Regions from separate parts of the Homo sapiens genome. Here all the other regions are linked to region 1. Evidence: fine-mapped expression QTL. A gene starts in region 1. Each other region holds a variant in brackets. All regions are shown on one strand. Distances are between the middles of the regions.

Region 1 (5,624 bases):
CTGCCAGCACCATGATCTTGAACTTCTCAGCCACTAGAATTGTGAGGAATAAATTTCTGTTGTTTAGAAGCCTCCCAGTCTGTGGTATTCTGTTACAGCAGCCCAGCTAAGACACAGGTTATCTCATTCCAACATTCAACAAACTGACCTACGAAGTCCAATCTCAATTTGATCCACTCTTACTCTTAATGATCTATCTTATAAAACAGAAACACATCTTCCTGACATTTTCATCCTCACATAAAAATTCTTCTATCCATTGATAAGGTTTTGATGTTTAGGCTTTTAAAACAAAGATAGTTTATTTCTGAAAAAAACTGAAAAGAGAACTAGAAAAAGAAGATAAATCACAATGCACAGTGCAATGAAACTTCGTTTTTAAAAAATAGCCTTATTAACATATAATTGACTATACCCACTTAAAATACACAATTTGATGAACTTTGATCAATGTATTCACCAGTGAAACCATCACCACAATCAAGGTAATGAACACACCTATCACCTGCAAAAGTTTTCATGTGCTTCTCTGTAATCCCTTCCCTTCCTACTCAAACTCATGCCTCTTGTCACAAGGTTTCTCCACTCTGGCTGTTGGGAACGAACTATTGCCTGGCCAATGCAAGCTCAGAAGTTTTTCTGCCAGCTTTTTTCTAGTGGTTGCCTCTCTGTCTTGGGAAGTTTCCTCACATGCATGTACCTGGTCGAACTTCTGCTGAAGACTCAGAGGAACCCTGCACAGATCTCCAGAGCTCCCTCCTTCCGTTGCACTCTCTCCTCTCTGGTACTCTAGCCACCCTGGCCTCCCTGAATTCTCAGCTCTATTTTCCAACTCAGAGTCTCTTTTGGTTCGCCTGTCTGCATTGCGGCTTGGAAACCCTCTCCAGGCAGTAAGCTGGAGCAAGCAGCATGTTCACTTCCTTTGTCTCCCTTCTCTTGGGCCCTGCATTGCCTGTTGCCCAATGTCTGAAAACCATTGTTCCATACATTTTTTTCACAGATTTTTCATTTCAGGTCACAGAGTAAGTCCAGTCCTTGTTGCTCCCTCCTGGCTGAAGCAGATGTCAACACTTATTTTTAAAAAATAGAAAATCATTTACAACAAGCTCATTGCAAAAAAAAAATTCAACAAAGTCTTATAAATTATAAAAGTCAGTATTTCCCCTTCAGTACTTGCAACTCACAGCCCAGAAATAACCACTGCTCACGGTAAACACAACATTAAATAATTTCCACTTCTCCCAAAAAGACCTATTGTAAAGTTGCAGATGCAGGAAAATCTTTGATGGTGCTGGAGGGATTTAGAAATGAATGCCCCTGAGAAATGCTGTCCTCTCCCCTGTCCACTTCCCTACCACGGAACATGTGAGCTAGGGCTCACTCTATACTGACTTCTCTTTCACGGTCCCAAAGGCAGGAGTGAGGTGGTCAAAGTCTCTGTGAAGGCACATAAAATCATGTATGTGAAAGTGTTTGGCAAACTTTGAAATCATGTACAATTCTTAGTTAATATTATATATTATCATGTTATTTTTAATATTAATAACTTATATAACAACTAGTCCTTGGAGGGTTTGATGATACCCTCAGTCAGCATTTTCATCACTAGTGAAAGTTTCTCCTCATAACAATCCTGCTCAAGCTCTCCAAGGTCTATGGCAAAAAATAAAAATAAAAAATAAAAAGCATTATGTTGCTTCAAGGTCATCTTACAATGACTGCAGTTGTGTGGGATGAGTATGCCATATGAGGAAGAATCTCCAGGCCGAAGTGGTACAGTCCAGACACAGCCTTTAGAGCTAAGAGGCCATTTCTTTTAGCCTCAAAAATCACTCAAATATACCCCTGCAAAAACTTTATAATTTCTCCCTTTGATGGAATGGCAAGTAACATTGAGCTTTTTTCTTTCTTTTCTATTGCTACCTTTTAATTTTACCTCCTACTCTGATCTGGATCTGCAAGCAATGGGTTCCTAAATGTCAACTCTGGAGATAATAAACACATAGCAGAGACTGATATTTTCCCACCAATTATTTATTCTTTCAATCCTAAAAAATACAGACACTTAACAGTGTTCTATTTACAATGTGCGCATCCAGGCAAAAATTTCCGGACAGGCTAAAAAGCAAGAAAATGCGATCCACAATCAGGAGAAAAATGAATCAACAGAAACTGATTCAGAAACAAACAAGATGCAGATGCTGCTCACAGAAGTCTAGAACGCCAAGGTGAAGCCCCCACTGGGTTGGACATTTTCTTATTCCTTATGTCATTTAAAGCACAACTCCCGAGATTTTACGTGATATAACCGCTAGAGGCCTCTCTGTCACAGGCTGTATTACTCCCAGGTCCCCATGTTGGCTGTGTTCAGATTTTTTGTTATATTTGTGGAAATCTGAGTGCATGTGACGACTGCTATTTATGGGTTTTGTTTTTATTTTTAAAGACAGGGTCTTGTTCTGTCCCCCAGGCTGGAGTACAGTGGTGTGATCACAGCTCATTGCAGTCTCGAACTCCTGGGTCCAAGCCATCCTCCCAACTCAGCCTCAGGACTTACAGGCGAGTACCACCTCACCAGGCTTGATTTTTGTGTTTTTAAACAGACTGAACATCTTTCAGTACTTCCCATCCCCACCCCTCCCGGCCCTGACTCCGCCACCCCAACCCCGCCCCACTTTGTACTACCCAAGCACATCTTGGGAACATGATGCGGAAAGTCAGGGACGCTGGAGGTGAAGGACTGATGACGCGCTACGGTGGTCCTAGGTGCGCGTGCCCCCTCTCTGGAGTAGTCCCGGGGGTCACGAGGATTTGAAGACAGGCCCTCCCTTCCCACTGCCCCCATTCCCCCGAATGCCAAGCCCCTGTGGGCAGGCGCCCTGGGCAGGTGTGGTTGGTTGCTAAAGCCTGCTGGGCCCAGACATGAACCCTGCCCTAGCTGGGCAGCGGCGCGGGAGCAAAGTTGTTCTGAGGCTGCCCTCCCCGGGGCCTGCTCTCCCAGCCCTGGAGGAGCCGGCGCGAGACGCGCGGGGGCGGGGCCGCGCGGGGGGGCGGGGCTCACCAAGGCTCCACCCCGCCGCGGCCACTGTTCGCACACACCTGGTGCTGATCAACGCCGAGGCCGACTCGTCGCCACCCAGCGCGCCGCAGGCCGGGGCGGAGAGGCGCAGGGCGCTGGGCAGTCTCCGGCGAGGGCAAGGAGCGGTGCCCGGCTGGGCCGGCTATGTCTCCCGCTACTGCGGTTCCCGCCGGCGCCCGCGACCTCGGGGGAGCAGCCGGGTTCGGGGGCGCCGCGCTGTGAGGCCGGGGCCTAGAGCCAGCCGCGGCCGCGCAGGAGGGGCCCAGGGCCCGCGCTCGCCCGCGTCCCCGCCTTCCTCCCGCGCTCAGCCCCGCCTCGGCTCGCTGCCCTTGGCTCTCGTCGCCATGGCCTCCGTCGCCCAGGAGAGCGCGGGCTCGCAGCGCCGGCTACCGCCGCGTCACGGGGCGCTGCGCGGGCTGCTACTGCTCTGCCTGTGGCTGCCAAGCGGCCGTGCGGCCTTGCCGCCCGCGGCGCCGCTGTCCGAACTGCACGCGCAGCTGTCGGGCGTGGAGCAGCTGCTGGAGGAGTTCCGCCGGCAACTGCAGCAGGAGCGGCCTCAGGAGGAGCTGGAGCTGGAGCTGCGCGCGGGCGGCGGCCCCCAGGAGGACTGCCCGGGCCCGGGCAGCGGCGGCTACAGCGCAATGCCTGACGCCATCATCCGCACCAAGGACTCCCTGGCGGCGGGTGCCAGCTTCCTGCGGGCGCCGGCGGCCGTGCGGGGCTGGCGGCAATGCGTGGCGGCCTGCTGCTCCGAGCCGCGCTGCTCCGTGGCCGTGGTGGAGCTGCCCCGGCGCCCCGCGCCCCCGGCAGCCGTGCTCGGCTGCTACCTCTTCAACTGCACGGCGCGCGGCCGCAACGTCTGCAAGTTCGCGCTGCACAGCGGCTACAGCAGCTACAGCCTCAGCCGCGCGCCGGACGGCGCCGCCCTGGCCACCGCGCGCGCCTCGCCCCGGCAGGGTAAGCGCGCGACTGAGGGGCCGGCCTTGGCCAGAGCGCTCGAGACCCGCAGCGCCCTCGCCAAGTTGGAAGCGAAACACACTCGTGCCAAGTTATTTTAGCCGCGGGCACCCAGAAGAGTTTCTGGCATGGGTTTCTCTGTCTTAGGGAAGAGGAAGCCCAGTAGTTTGGCAGAAGCGGGCGGGCGGGCGCGGTGACGTGCTACTGGAATTTTTCTAGGCTTGAAGAGAAAGGCTGATCTGAGAGGATTCGTGGAAATATGACTTAAAAGGGGAGAAATGCTGAGAGAAAAAAGTTTGTTTTAGTCTCATGGGTTGTATAAGGCATGGTTTGTGTTAAGTAATTGCAAGAGCAAAATCTAATTAGATGCCGGGCTTCTCGTAACACCCACTCCTTTTTCTTGACGTGGCTCTCCTGACTTTGCCTGCGGTGGCTTTCATCATACAAAAATGGGAGGAAAACTTCTGGTCCCTTTTATAAAAAGTGAAAAGAGGGGACTTGATTTTCGTTGAAAATAAGAAACTTTAAGGCCGGGCGTGGTGGCTTATGCCTGTAATCCCAGCACTTTGGGAGGCCGAGGAGGGCGGATCACCTGAGGTCAGGAGTTTGAGACCTGCCTGACCAATGTGATGAAACCCCATCTCTACTAAAAATACAAAAATTAGCCAGAGCTGGTGGCATGCGCCTGTAATCCCAGCTATTCGGGAGGCTGAGGCAGGAGAATCGCTTGAACCTAGGAGGCGGAGGTTGCAGTGAGCCGAGATCGCGCCATTGCACTCCAGCCTGGGCAACAAGAGCGAAACTCCATCTTAAAAAAAAAAAAAAAAAAAGGAAAAGAAAATAGGAAACTTTAAAGCGTGTTTCTTAAGGACTAAAAATGATGCTGATTCGACGGTTTGACTTTTTGTAGATGCTCTGAATGAGAGAATCAGGACACATACAGGAGGCACAAAAATGGTAGTGGTTGGACATGAATGTCACGGAGGGAATAAGAGACCTTGATTGTGCCCACGTGTGGTCAGGCTCCGTGTGTTTAATCATGCCCTGTTGCTGTTTGATTTATAATAGCACGAATGATATCAGCAAGATGGGGGCGGAGCTCAGCCCCTTTGGAAGTGTGGATTCTCCAAAACCTGTGGATCCATTGAAAGAGTCTGGAAATCTGTGTCCATCACATCCTGCCTCCCTCCCCACCTCTACCTTAGATGAGGCTCAGAATCCTTGTCAGGGGAGCAGATATCAAAGGGTCACCCTGCGACTGCTTGGCCTTGAGGCAAACACTGGGAAGGACTCCATAGCTTTCCTTCTGAAGTGGAGGCAGGCAGCACTTTCACTTGGACCCCCCATCAGCATCTCTGAGGCCCACCACGGCTGTTGCACACACATCCTCTCTGCCCAAACACAGACCAAAATATCCCAGCAGCAAAGAAACAAAGTCTTTTCTCTGTGTTCTCACTACTTACCTGGAAGAAACTGACATTGCCAAAGTGAGCTTTCCTATAAACCCAGAGGAAACCTTTGAAAAGGAAAATAAACAAGGAAAGAATATGCCATAGAACAAAAATTTTAAAGTTTAGATTACTTGGAG
Region 2 (5,000 bases), 470 kb after region 1:
CTTTGCATCCTTCCCAACCCCAAGCATGTAAATGAAAATAAGCAAACATCTTCTTAATGAATTCATTTAAGAATGCCAAAGTTTGAAGCAATTCTAGAGAGGAAGGTTGCTGAACAGGAAAAATTTTCTAAAATTTTGCTTTTCAAAAGTAACAGTTTTCACATTTAATGGATACACTAACCTTTGGGTTTTGGTGGCACAGGACCTACAAATCCAATATTGTCATAAAAGTTATGAATAGCGCTGGGGTTAAAATGTGGTCCTGAAATATATAAAAAGTAAATATATCAATGCTTATAGCTCAAAAACAACTTTACTTTTTAAAACAAGTATTTCTTTCTAAAAATAAACACGCTATAAGAAATGCTTTTCATTTATTTTGCCCCTCTAACCTCGAATTATATGTAAGATTTCAAAACATATTTCAAATATATTATCTTAGGTATAATGTAGTACTCATAAACACGGGTAAGTGGTAAACTGTGAAAGAAGTCAAATTAATGCTGGTAAGACATTAATAGAAGTAGAAGTAGATCCCTGTTCTATGTGGCAAGTTAAAATAACTTAAAATTTCACAATTTAAAATGTAATTTTAAACGATCAAACATGGACTTAAGTAACTAAACAGCTTTACCTCAAGTAAATATAAAAACCTTGCACTATGTAATAGAATGGTTAAAATTTTACACAAAAAGAGTAAGTTCAAGGATTGTAGTTTCTAGAACAGCACCAACTTTTTAGAGTTAAATTATGGTATTTTTCTATGAATGTTTAAAGATAAATAGCTTAATCAACATTTAAAAAGAATAAAAATAAAAATAATCATCTTCCAGTTGAACAGATTCTAGAACACAGTCCCAAGTGTGATTAAAGACTTCTCTTTTGGTTAGATTCCTTCCCCTTCCTGTCTTTTCCATTTTATATCTTTTTATTATTTATCCAACTTCAGAATTAGGTTTAAGTGATAACATTTCCTTTTAGTTCTCTATGGAACTGAATTAAATTGTAAACATTATTTACTATAAGAAAACATTGCTTGTCATTAATAGCTCAAGTATAAGAAACTATCATTGTCTAAAGAATGTATAAACCTTATTTTTACTATCTTCTATATTTTATCAGTTAAGATAGTGCCATTGAGATGGGGGTGACTTTTTAAATATATTCTTAAAAGTCTGTCTGGCTCCAAAGCCACATGTTCTGAGACAGTAAGATTATGATTGATAAGTCTGTTTTTAGCCACAGAAAAACTGCTGGTGAATTAAATACGATGAATTTCAGCTACAAATACACTGAACTTTACCTCGGGCTTGAAAAAGATCAATTTCTTTGGTTAAGCAGTCAATGTCAATCTGGAGTTGTCTATTACAACTTCTCAGCTGCTGCATTTCTTCAAGCTGAAAAATAATTCTATGTAAGTAAGATTTGCACTGAATTCTTAGTCATTAGTTAATAAAGAATGGAGTTTGGCACAAGAAAGTAAGGACAGAAAAACAAGAGTTAAGAACATCTGAAGAAAACTAGATAGAGATATTACACTTATGTTAGATGGCCTACTCTCATGTTCAAGCAGAGATCACAACAGTTACATAAAGACTTACGGAAGGTATCTGGGATATAGAATTTGATCTTTTCAGGCGCCTTCGAGTTAGATTATTTTCCATTTCATTAACCTCAGATTTTAATTTATCCAGCTTTTTCTTTTGAATCTCAAGTTCTCTTTGAAGTCGTTCCATTCTGGCCTTCTGGTGTACCAAAAGAGCTGCAACACACATTAGTAAACATGAGGACCCACCCACTTTAATCAATTAACCTTTAAGCAGACTTGGAAAAGCAAACAAGAATTTGTCAGAAATCCCAAAGCTACATTAAAACAAAATATTGTAAGTTTAGGCATTTAAAATTTCAATTTTTTTTTTTTTTTGACACAG[AGT/T]TTTACTCTTGTTGCTCAGGCTGGAGTGCAATGGTGCGATCTCGGCTCAGTGCAACCTCTGCCTCCTGGGTTCAAGTGATTCTCCTGCCTCAGCCTCCCAAGTAGCTGGGATTATGGGCAACTGCCACCACACCCCACTAATTTTGTATTTTTAGTAGAGATGAGGTTTCACCATGTTGGTCAGGCTGGTCTCGAACTCTGGACCCCAGGTGATCCGCCTGCCTTGGCCTACCAAAGTGCTGGGATTAGAGGCTTGTGCCACTGTGCCTGGCCAAATTCCAAACATTTTAACTGAAAAATTGTTTTAGTCATTTAAACAAATGCCACTTTTTAAATGTTTTCTAGGATTTGGAGAAATTCACTTTATGAATGAAGACAGCATTTTTAGGCTACAGCTTCTCTAAAGGTTTTCGTCTTTTCAGTTAACCTACTTACTACTGTATCTAATTCACATCTACCCTCGGAAAGGACAAGCTCTCTTACTTCAGAGTTTGTCATGTTTGGTCTATGAATGAAGCATTCTAATATGAAAATGTTATAGATATTTTAGAAGGGAATGTAGAATCCATTTTGATGTATGCAACAAATAAAACAGGCAGATTGATTTCACTCCACATAAATGTTAACATTAAATTATCCCAATTGCCACTTATATTTTTGTATATTCAGATTATATTTTGTGAAAATATCTTCCAAGATCTTTAAAGAAACAAAATAAGCAATCAATCCTGCAGCATGAACTACTTGGGAAACCATAATAAACTACAAATACTGGTATATGTTTTTGTGATCTGTCCCTGGACATGAATCTCATCCTTTAGGATACTGGACTGGAAGTGAAGATACTTGAATCTACTTTTTATAAAGAAACAACATGGGATGATTCTATCTTGAGAAAAATAAAGCAGATTTGGAAAAGAACTTTAAACAACCTCTAGAAATAAAAGTCACTGAAATGAAAAAGCCAAACAGATTACAGTAGATTACATACAAAGACAGTTGGTGACCTGTCAGATAGATGTAAGAATGTTACCCAGAATGCACAGATAATGTGACAGAAAAAATGAAAGAAGAGTTCTGAAAGGTCTCACAGACATCTAAGAAAAAAATTCCAGGCTGGGCATGGTGGCTCACACCTGTAACTCCAGCACTTTGGGGAGGCCGAGAAGGGTGGATCATCTGAGGTCAGGAGTTCGAGACCAGACTGGCCAACATGGTGAAACCTCGTTTCTACTAAAAATACAAAAAGTTGCCGGGCGTGGTGGTGGATGCCTGTAATCCCAGCTACTTGGGAGGCTGAGGCAGGAGAATTGCTTGAACCCGGGAGGCAGAGGTTGCAGTAAGCCGAGATCACACCACTGCACTCCAGCCTGGATGACAGAGTGAGACTCCAACTCGGGGGCGGGTAGGGGGAGACAGAGAGAGAAAAGAATTCCAGAAGGAGACAACAGAGAGAATAGACAAGAGGCAAGATGTGAAGAGATATTGGCTGAAAATGTTTCAAAATTGAAGGGAAAAAAGGAAGTAACAAATTTTAGAAGATAAAATAATTTGTTCACCTAATTAAATTATACAAGAATACAAATGAATAAAGGTATTTCCAACAAAGTCTGGGGAAATTCAACAATCACAGATAGCTGCTGAAATAACTACTCAATATATGTTCTGATAAGAAGGAAATTAAACACAAAAGAATGGAATAAGATGAGTAAATCTAAAAAAAAAAAGCTCTGACAATAAAACAAAGGAAAAGACTATGGCAGGGCAGGGGAGCAGCAGACATTGTCTAAAACAAAGTGAAAATAAAACATTGGAAAAGAATAACAATACACTGGAAGTGCAAAAATCAGAGGTGAAGTATTCTAAGGTCTTGAAGGTATTTAAGAAGAATACAGTTAAATGTTGCTAAGCCAAATATACATGTTCAGTATTTAGGGATCTGTGCTAAAGGAAGTTAAAACAGAATGTGCAGTTTCTAAATTCAAAGACAGAACCTAAGGAGAAATGAGGGAAATTTAATTAAACCTAGATAGCAGGAAAGGAGGGGATAAAGGAAAGAAATACAAAACAAAAACCAGACAGGGATAATTCCAAATATACTAGAAATCACAATGAATGCAACCTAATTAAACATATCTGTTGAGATGAGATCAGTAGACTGAATTGTAAAACCTCAGCTATATGCTGCTTATAAAAAACACTCAAAACATAATTAACTTATCTATTATTTTAATAAGTTGAGGGTCTATGTGTCAGATGTTGTTGTAGGCATTTTGGAAGTCCATGAACAAAATAGGAAAAAATCCTTGCCCTTGCGGAGCTCACGTTACCACGGTAGCAGAGATTGGGGCCAGGGAGTAGGGCAAGAGAAAGACTCTAAACAAAGGGTAAACAGGTAGGCAAACTATGGCCCATGGGCCAAATCTAGCCCACTGCCTGTTTCGTCATTAAAGTTTTATTGGATACAGCCTTGCTCATTTGTTTACTTGTTGTCTATGGCTGTTTCCATTTTACAACAGCAGAATTAAATAGTTGTGACAGAGATTATGTGGCCTACAAAATCCTAAATGATTACTATCTGGCCCTCTACCAGATCACGTAGAGCCTTGCTGACCATATTAAGGACTCTGAATAAAATGGGGATCTATCATAGCACAGACAGGTTCAAAATAAAAGGACTCAAAATAAATATCTTGCACTTCAGGCACTACTCTAAGAAGCATAAAGTAATAGCAGTCAATTGCTGGAAGTATCTGAAGACTGTGGTGCACTGAAGGCAACAACAAAACCCAAACCCAGCTCCACTCCTGACTAAATTGATGCAATGCCTCATAATAATAACCTGAAAGAAAAAGAGATGTCCTCATTTCTGGGTGCAAATACCATTTACTTTAGTCTCCTCTGTTCCTTTACACATAGTGTGTGGCATTCAATAAAAAATTATGAGACATACAAGCAGGAGAAAAATGTAATTCATCATCAAGAGATAAAGTGATCAACAGAACTATACTCAAAGATGATGCAGCTGGAATTACCTGACAGAAAACTTAAAGATGTAACTATGATT
Region 3 (5,624 bases), 24 kb after region 1:
TGGGAAGTGAGCAAACAGAAACAGCAAGCACGGCACAGCCAGGCCTTTCAGGGAGCCAAGTGGAGATGGGAAGGAAGCGGGGCTGTGGCTGGTGAGCCCTTAGAGCTCAGGGAATTTTTTTTATTTGTTGTTTTGTTTGTTTCTTAGGATGAGAGAAACTTGAGCATAGTAATAGCAGAGCCATTTGAAAGAGAAATGAGTCGATGTGTCAGTGTTCTAAAGGTCCTAGAAAGAAAGGGGGCAAGGACTAGAAGGAGGGGTTGGCCTGGAACACAGGAGGGACAGCTTCTCCCTGCTGGCTGTCAGAAGGAAGTGACAGTGGGTACAGGTAGGGTACCAGGAGGAGGTGGGTGGTGGAGCCCTAGTCATGGTCCTGATTTTCTCCCTGAAGCTGATGAGTCCCCCTGCTGAGACGGCAGGGCCTGGATCCTGAGCGTGAGGCTGGGGATGAGGTGCAGGTTTGGAGCAGCAACTGCTGCAGACAAGTGAAGGGATTGTCAGTCAAGGCCTTGGCCACCTAAATAAACTAGAACTTATGAGTTCAAGGTGGGCCAGCTGCCAACAGTGTGTGATGTAGTTCAGCAGCCTCGGGCCGGAGTGCAGAGGCAGGTCCTGGGGCTGCTCTGAGGACATGGACTTTCGGTTGAGGATGGTGTTGGGCTCGGAGCTCAAGTCTGCTGCTCGACGTGATGTGTCCCATCTGTGTGGCAGGTGCCTCAATCAGGAACCCTGAAGCTGTCCCACCTACAGGAGGGAACCTACACCTTCCAGCTGACCGTGACGGACACTGCCGGGCAGAGAAGCTCTGACAACGTGTCAGTGACAGTGCTTCGCGCAGCCTACTCCACAGGAGGTGAGAAGAAAGTCCTTCCCTCGCTTCCCACTGCTTGTGGAAGGCAATGTCGGGTTGGCGCTTTGTCCTCTGGCTCTGCGCTCCATGGGCTCTTCCATTTTATTTTTGGTTATTGCTGAATGAGAGAGTCTTTGCTAAAAACACAATAACAAAAGCAGGCTCTCTTCTGTTTTGGGCTTAGCCGATGCTACTGGGTTGGGGTGGAGGAAGCACTCCAGGGGATGAGAAGAGATGCTCCCGCTTCTCTTGACTCGACTTCATCAAAGACAATTGCTTGGCTATTCTGGGAGAGGACTTTGTTTACAGATGGATGGTCCATTTGCTGCATCTGTTCCAAGAGGGAAGCTAAGGAGTTTAGTGAAACCAGTTGAACTCGTGGAAGCAGAGAGTGGAATGGCGGTTACTGGAGGCTGTGCGGGGGACGGACTGGGAAAGGAGAGACGCTGGTCAAAGGGTACAAAGTGTCACTGAGACCGGAGGAACAGGTTCTGGTGATCTGTTGCACAGCATGGTGACTATAGTTAATGATAATGTATTGTCTGTTTCAAAATTGCTAAAACAGTAGGTTTTAAATGTTGTCATCACAAAAAGATTACAAGTAGGGGAGATGATAGATATGTCAGTTAGCTTGATGTAATCATTCCACAATGCAAACATATATCAAAACATCACATTGTGCCTCATAAATATATACTCTCCTCTTTTGTCAATTAAAAATACATATTAAAAAAACAAGGAAAAGGCATACCACAGGATTGAAGAAAGACTTGGCTCTTGGGTGTAATCAATTGCTGATATAATAAGTCACTTCAAAAATTTTAGAAAGAGAAAAAGAGTGCAGCTAAGGAGTACGGTTAAAATTAATTGAAATACGCAAAGGACCCATCAATTTGAAAGTGCTACCTACACATTTTCATAGACACTTTACGCAGATGCAGTTATATTAATAATATAACTTTAAATACATATGATGGTTCTCACATTCTGTTGTACAATGTAACAATGTAAAACTTATTTCATTCATCTATGTTTCTTACTTTTCTAAACATCTACATTTTTTTTTTGAGAGGGAGTTTTGCTCTTGTTGCCTAGGCTGGAGTGGGAGTGCAGTGGTGCAGTCTCGGCTCACTGCAGCCTCTGCCTCCTGGGTTCAAGTGATTCTCCTGCCTCAGCCTCCCAAGTAGCTGGGACTACAGGTGTGCACCACCACGCCCTGCTAATTTTGTATTTTTAGTAGAGACAGGGTTTCACCATGTTGGCCAACCTGGTCTCGAATTCCTGACCTCAGGTGATCCACCCGCCTCAGCCTCCCGAAGCACTTAGACTACAGGCGTGAACCACCGCGCCCAGCCCAACGTCTACATGTCTAAGAAAGATTAGGTCATCAAATTTTTTAAAATATCCATTGCATGGAACTTAGCGACACTAAAGATATTGTAGTATTGTAGAGGGAACCCCTCACCACACACACAATTCACTTCTGGAGAGGTGCTAAGGTCTTGTACATTTAAATATCCTGTTACTCGGTCATCGTGTATTTTCTTAGTGTATGCAGTGTGCAGGGTCCTTGCCAGGCACTGGGGATAGAGTGGTGCACTGGTGGTCCCTGACTCTGGTAAACTTGCAGTAAGTCTGTGACATTTTTGAATTCTCAGTATTCAATACTCAGGATCCAGATGGTAATTAAGCCAGCAGAGTGCAGAATGAGGATAAAAGAGTTGGAACAGGACTGTGATTTACTTGTACTATATTGGATCTAGCCTTCTATCAAAAACTGAGGTTAGTATGCATACTGGAAATGAAATTTTCTAAGGAGTTAGAGATTTTAGGATCCTAAGGACTTGTCAACTTTGATAATTTTCATAGGCGGCATTAAAAATTTGTTTGGCTGATGACAACCTGTCCAGCCAGGGGTTAAGCTTACTGTAAGGAAGCAGGGTAACCATTCACAGACAGGACAGGCACCAAACTCCAGCCCGTGCCAGCACTGTGAGGTCACCAGTGATAGCGAGTAAACAGTCTGTCCAGCTCAGCCCGGATTCCATCAGCCCTGCTAATTCATTGCAGCTGGACAGGAGAGCCAGCCAGCTACTCAAAACATTGTTGAGTCCCTTTGCTGGGCAGCTACTCAAAACATCATTGGTCCCTTGGCCACCAGGACCAGTGGAGACATGACATTGTCTCCAGCAGGGATGGCTCACTTCTGTAGATCTGGGCGCCCTCTAGAGGGCTTTCCCCCTGGGTACCGGGACTCACCTGGACAGGGTCTGAGTCAAGTGCTGACTCTGGGAGGAAGGGACTCTTGGGAAAAAGACACAGATACCCTGTCATCCCCACAGAAATCAGAAAAGGATTGCTCTTGTACAGCTGAAGTGCCTGGGAGGGAGGAAGGGCCTGCACTGATATGAGCAGATGGCCAGCACCTCACCGGCCACTTGTTTGTCCTGGTTTATTTCCTCAGGCAGCTTTCCGGGCTCCAGAGGTAAATTGCCAGCTGTAAATTTCTGGCCCTTCTCCAAGATGATAATAAACTGTATTTGAAGTAGCAGAGAGTGGT[G/A]TGTGAATCATTTTTGATTACTCAGTGGCCGCTTGAGTATAGGTCTTGTGTGGGTAACTTTATATGGAAAATAAAAAGGAATTGGTGAAGTACTAACTGCTGTCTAGAATCACTTAGTGGTTATATTGGAATAACATGCTATGAATTAAAGTTAATAAAACACCACAGAGAGACATTGGAAAATAGAGGTAGAAGAGACAAGTGTTTCCCTCCCCTGCATTGTATGTATTGGTCTTGCAATGAATGACCCAGATGTTATGGTAACCAAGGGTGACACTAGCTGAGGTAGACAGATGAGCAGGTACCCTGCTTATATGATCATAACTTGGTTCAATTTTTAATAAGTTGACATTTTGAACATTTTTCATGCTTAGAAAAATGATCAAACAGCAAGCCAGCAAGCTCTTCCAACATGATCTAACTCAGCAGTCTCCAAACAGGATGCCCCTGAGTTGTTCAAGACATTTTTAGGGTGAGAAAGAAGACAGCAGAGTTTATATTTTTGCTGATTTTTAATTTTTTTCCTTAAAATTTGAGTATATTTTATAAGATACACCCCATGTTAGTACAGTAGTATGCACGTATTATTTATAAATAAACCGGACTAGCCGGATGTGGTGGGACACGCCTGTAATCCCAGCTACTCAGGAGGCTGAGACATGAGAGTCAGTTGAGCCTGGGAGCTGGAGGCTGCAGTGAGCTGAGATTGTGCCACCGCACTCCAGCCTGGGCGACACAGCGAGACTCCGTCTCAAATAAATAGATAAATAAATAAACTGGAGATGCCTGTTCAACAATATATTATTGATCAGGATGCATGATCAAAAAAGTTTGGAGGCTGCTAATCCAAAAATAGATAGAAAATTTACAAATATGGATCCATCTCCAAAATCACCAAAGAATAAATAAAACCTTGAGATATCTGGGATTTTCATGCCATGAATTTAAGAAACCTGACGAGGAACTGTATCCTGCTTGATATCCAGCGTGTCCCCCACCTCCGCTCCCTGCTTCTTCCCAGTGGCCGGAGCTGACTCTCCTTCAGGCCCATGTTCTCAGTCATAACTGCAGGCTCTTTGCTTCCTCTTCTTCCGCAGGAGCTTCTATCACCATTTATTTTCTTTAACTTCTCTTCCTCCTGGATCAATATATCTTCAAATTGCCTCACACCAAGATAGACTCCTTTTCCAACCTCTTGATTTAACCACGTTTCAATAAAAGATGTGTCCAAGGCCGGGCGCAGTGGCTTACACCTGTAATCTCAGCACTTTGGGAGGCTGAGGCAGGAGGATTGCTTGAGTCCAGTAGTTCAAGACCAGCCTGGGCAACATAGTGACACCCTGTATCTACAAAAAAAAAAAAAACAAAAAAAAACCAAGTGTATGTCCAAGATTTCACTTGGGTTTGTGAACTGTGCTCAGCCATTTGGTTTTGAAGGAATATCATATAATCTGCCACTTCCCCATGTTCCTGAGAGAATTGTCTAGTCCACTCTGTCCCTGTAAAACCGTGGAGCTCCTGTGACCTGCTTCTAGCCTTGTGCCTTAGTCCATGTTGCCAGTACCAGATAGTCACCCGGTTCTCCTCTAGCTAAGTCTAATAAAGTTGGCTTAATCAAGGGAGAGGGAAAATGCATTTCAGGAAAATATTTGTAGCTCCTATGAATTGCACTGCAAATTAAAAGCTCCTAAGAACTCCAGAAGGGAGAAATGTCGTTATTTCTTTCTTTTTTTTTTTTTTTGAGACAGAGTCTCCCTCTGTCGCCCAGGCTGGAGTGCAGTGTCACAATCTTGGCTCACTGCAACCTCTGCCTCCCAGACTCAAGTGATTCTCCTGTCTCAGCCTCCCGAGTACCTGGGACTACAGGTGCATGCCACCAAGCCCGGCTAATTTTTTGTATTTTTAGTAGAGACGGGGTTTCACCGTGTTAGCCAGGATGGTCTCGATCTCCTGACCTTGTGATCCACCCGCCTTAGCTTCCCAAAGTGCTGGGATTACAGGTGTGAGCCACCACGCCTGGCCAATGTCATTATTTCATGAAACTAAATTCATGCCAGCCCATAACTAAATTTTGTTTATTCTCTACAGTACCAGGGACGTTATGATAATCAACAAATAGGATTCAATAGTAAAAACTTAATCTCAGTGAAAAGTATTACTTAGGAGACAAGAATGTAAGACATAGCATATGTAAAATAGTACCTCTGGGCCAGG

What was found.
Region 2: its variant is fine-mapped to the expression of LRP11 in prefrontal cortex (GTEx, PIP above 0.99).
Region 3: its variant is fine-mapped to the expression of LRP11 in subcutaneous fat (GTEx, PIP above 0.99). The same link has a PIP of 0.9 or more in aorta, atrial appendage, coronary artery, esophagus mucosa, esophagus muscle and fibroblasts.

Annotation. Positions count from the first base shown.
Region 1 is chr6:149,861,820-149,867,443 of GRCh38, reverse strand. LRP11 (LDL receptor related protein 11) reads left to right here and starts at 3,085. Exons shown (of 7, transcript NM_032832.6): 1 at 3,085-4,036. The coding sequence starts at 3,424. It overlaps RAET1E-LRP11 (RAET1E-LRP11 readthrough), which reads left to right. Exons shown (of 15, transcript NR_182438.1): 8 at 2,100-2,228; 9 at 2,447-2,559. RAET1E-AS1 (RAET1E antisense RNA 1) reads right to left here and starts at 3,946. Exons shown (of 2, transcript NR_045126.1): 1 at 3,062-3,946. RefSeq lists an enhancer at 2,774-3,274 and silencers at 2,931-3,380, 3,451-3,510, 3,651-3,760, 3,931-4,080.
Region 2 is chr6:149,394,366-149,399,365 of GRCh38, reverse strand. It overlaps TAB2 (TGF-beta activated kinase 1 (MAP3K7) binding protein 2), which reads right to left. Exons shown (of 7, transcript NM_001292034.3): 4 at 1,602-1,762; 5 at 1,304-1,397; 6 at 182-262. Among named protein-coding and RNA genes, the nearest start is that of SUMO4, 3.4 kb to the left of the region's middle. The variant AGT/T (reference allele first, on the strand shown) is at 1,932.
Region 3 is chr6:149,838,212-149,843,835 of GRCh38, reverse strand. LRP11 (LDL receptor related protein 11) reads left to right here. Exons shown (of 7, transcript NM_032832.6): 3 at 712-853. RAET1E-LRP11 (RAET1E-LRP11 readthrough) reads left to right here. Exons shown (of 15, transcript NR_182438.1): 11 at 712-853. Among named protein-coding and RNA genes, the nearest start is that of RAET1E-AS1, 22 kb to the left of the region's middle. The variant G/A (reference allele first, on the strand shown) is at 3,411.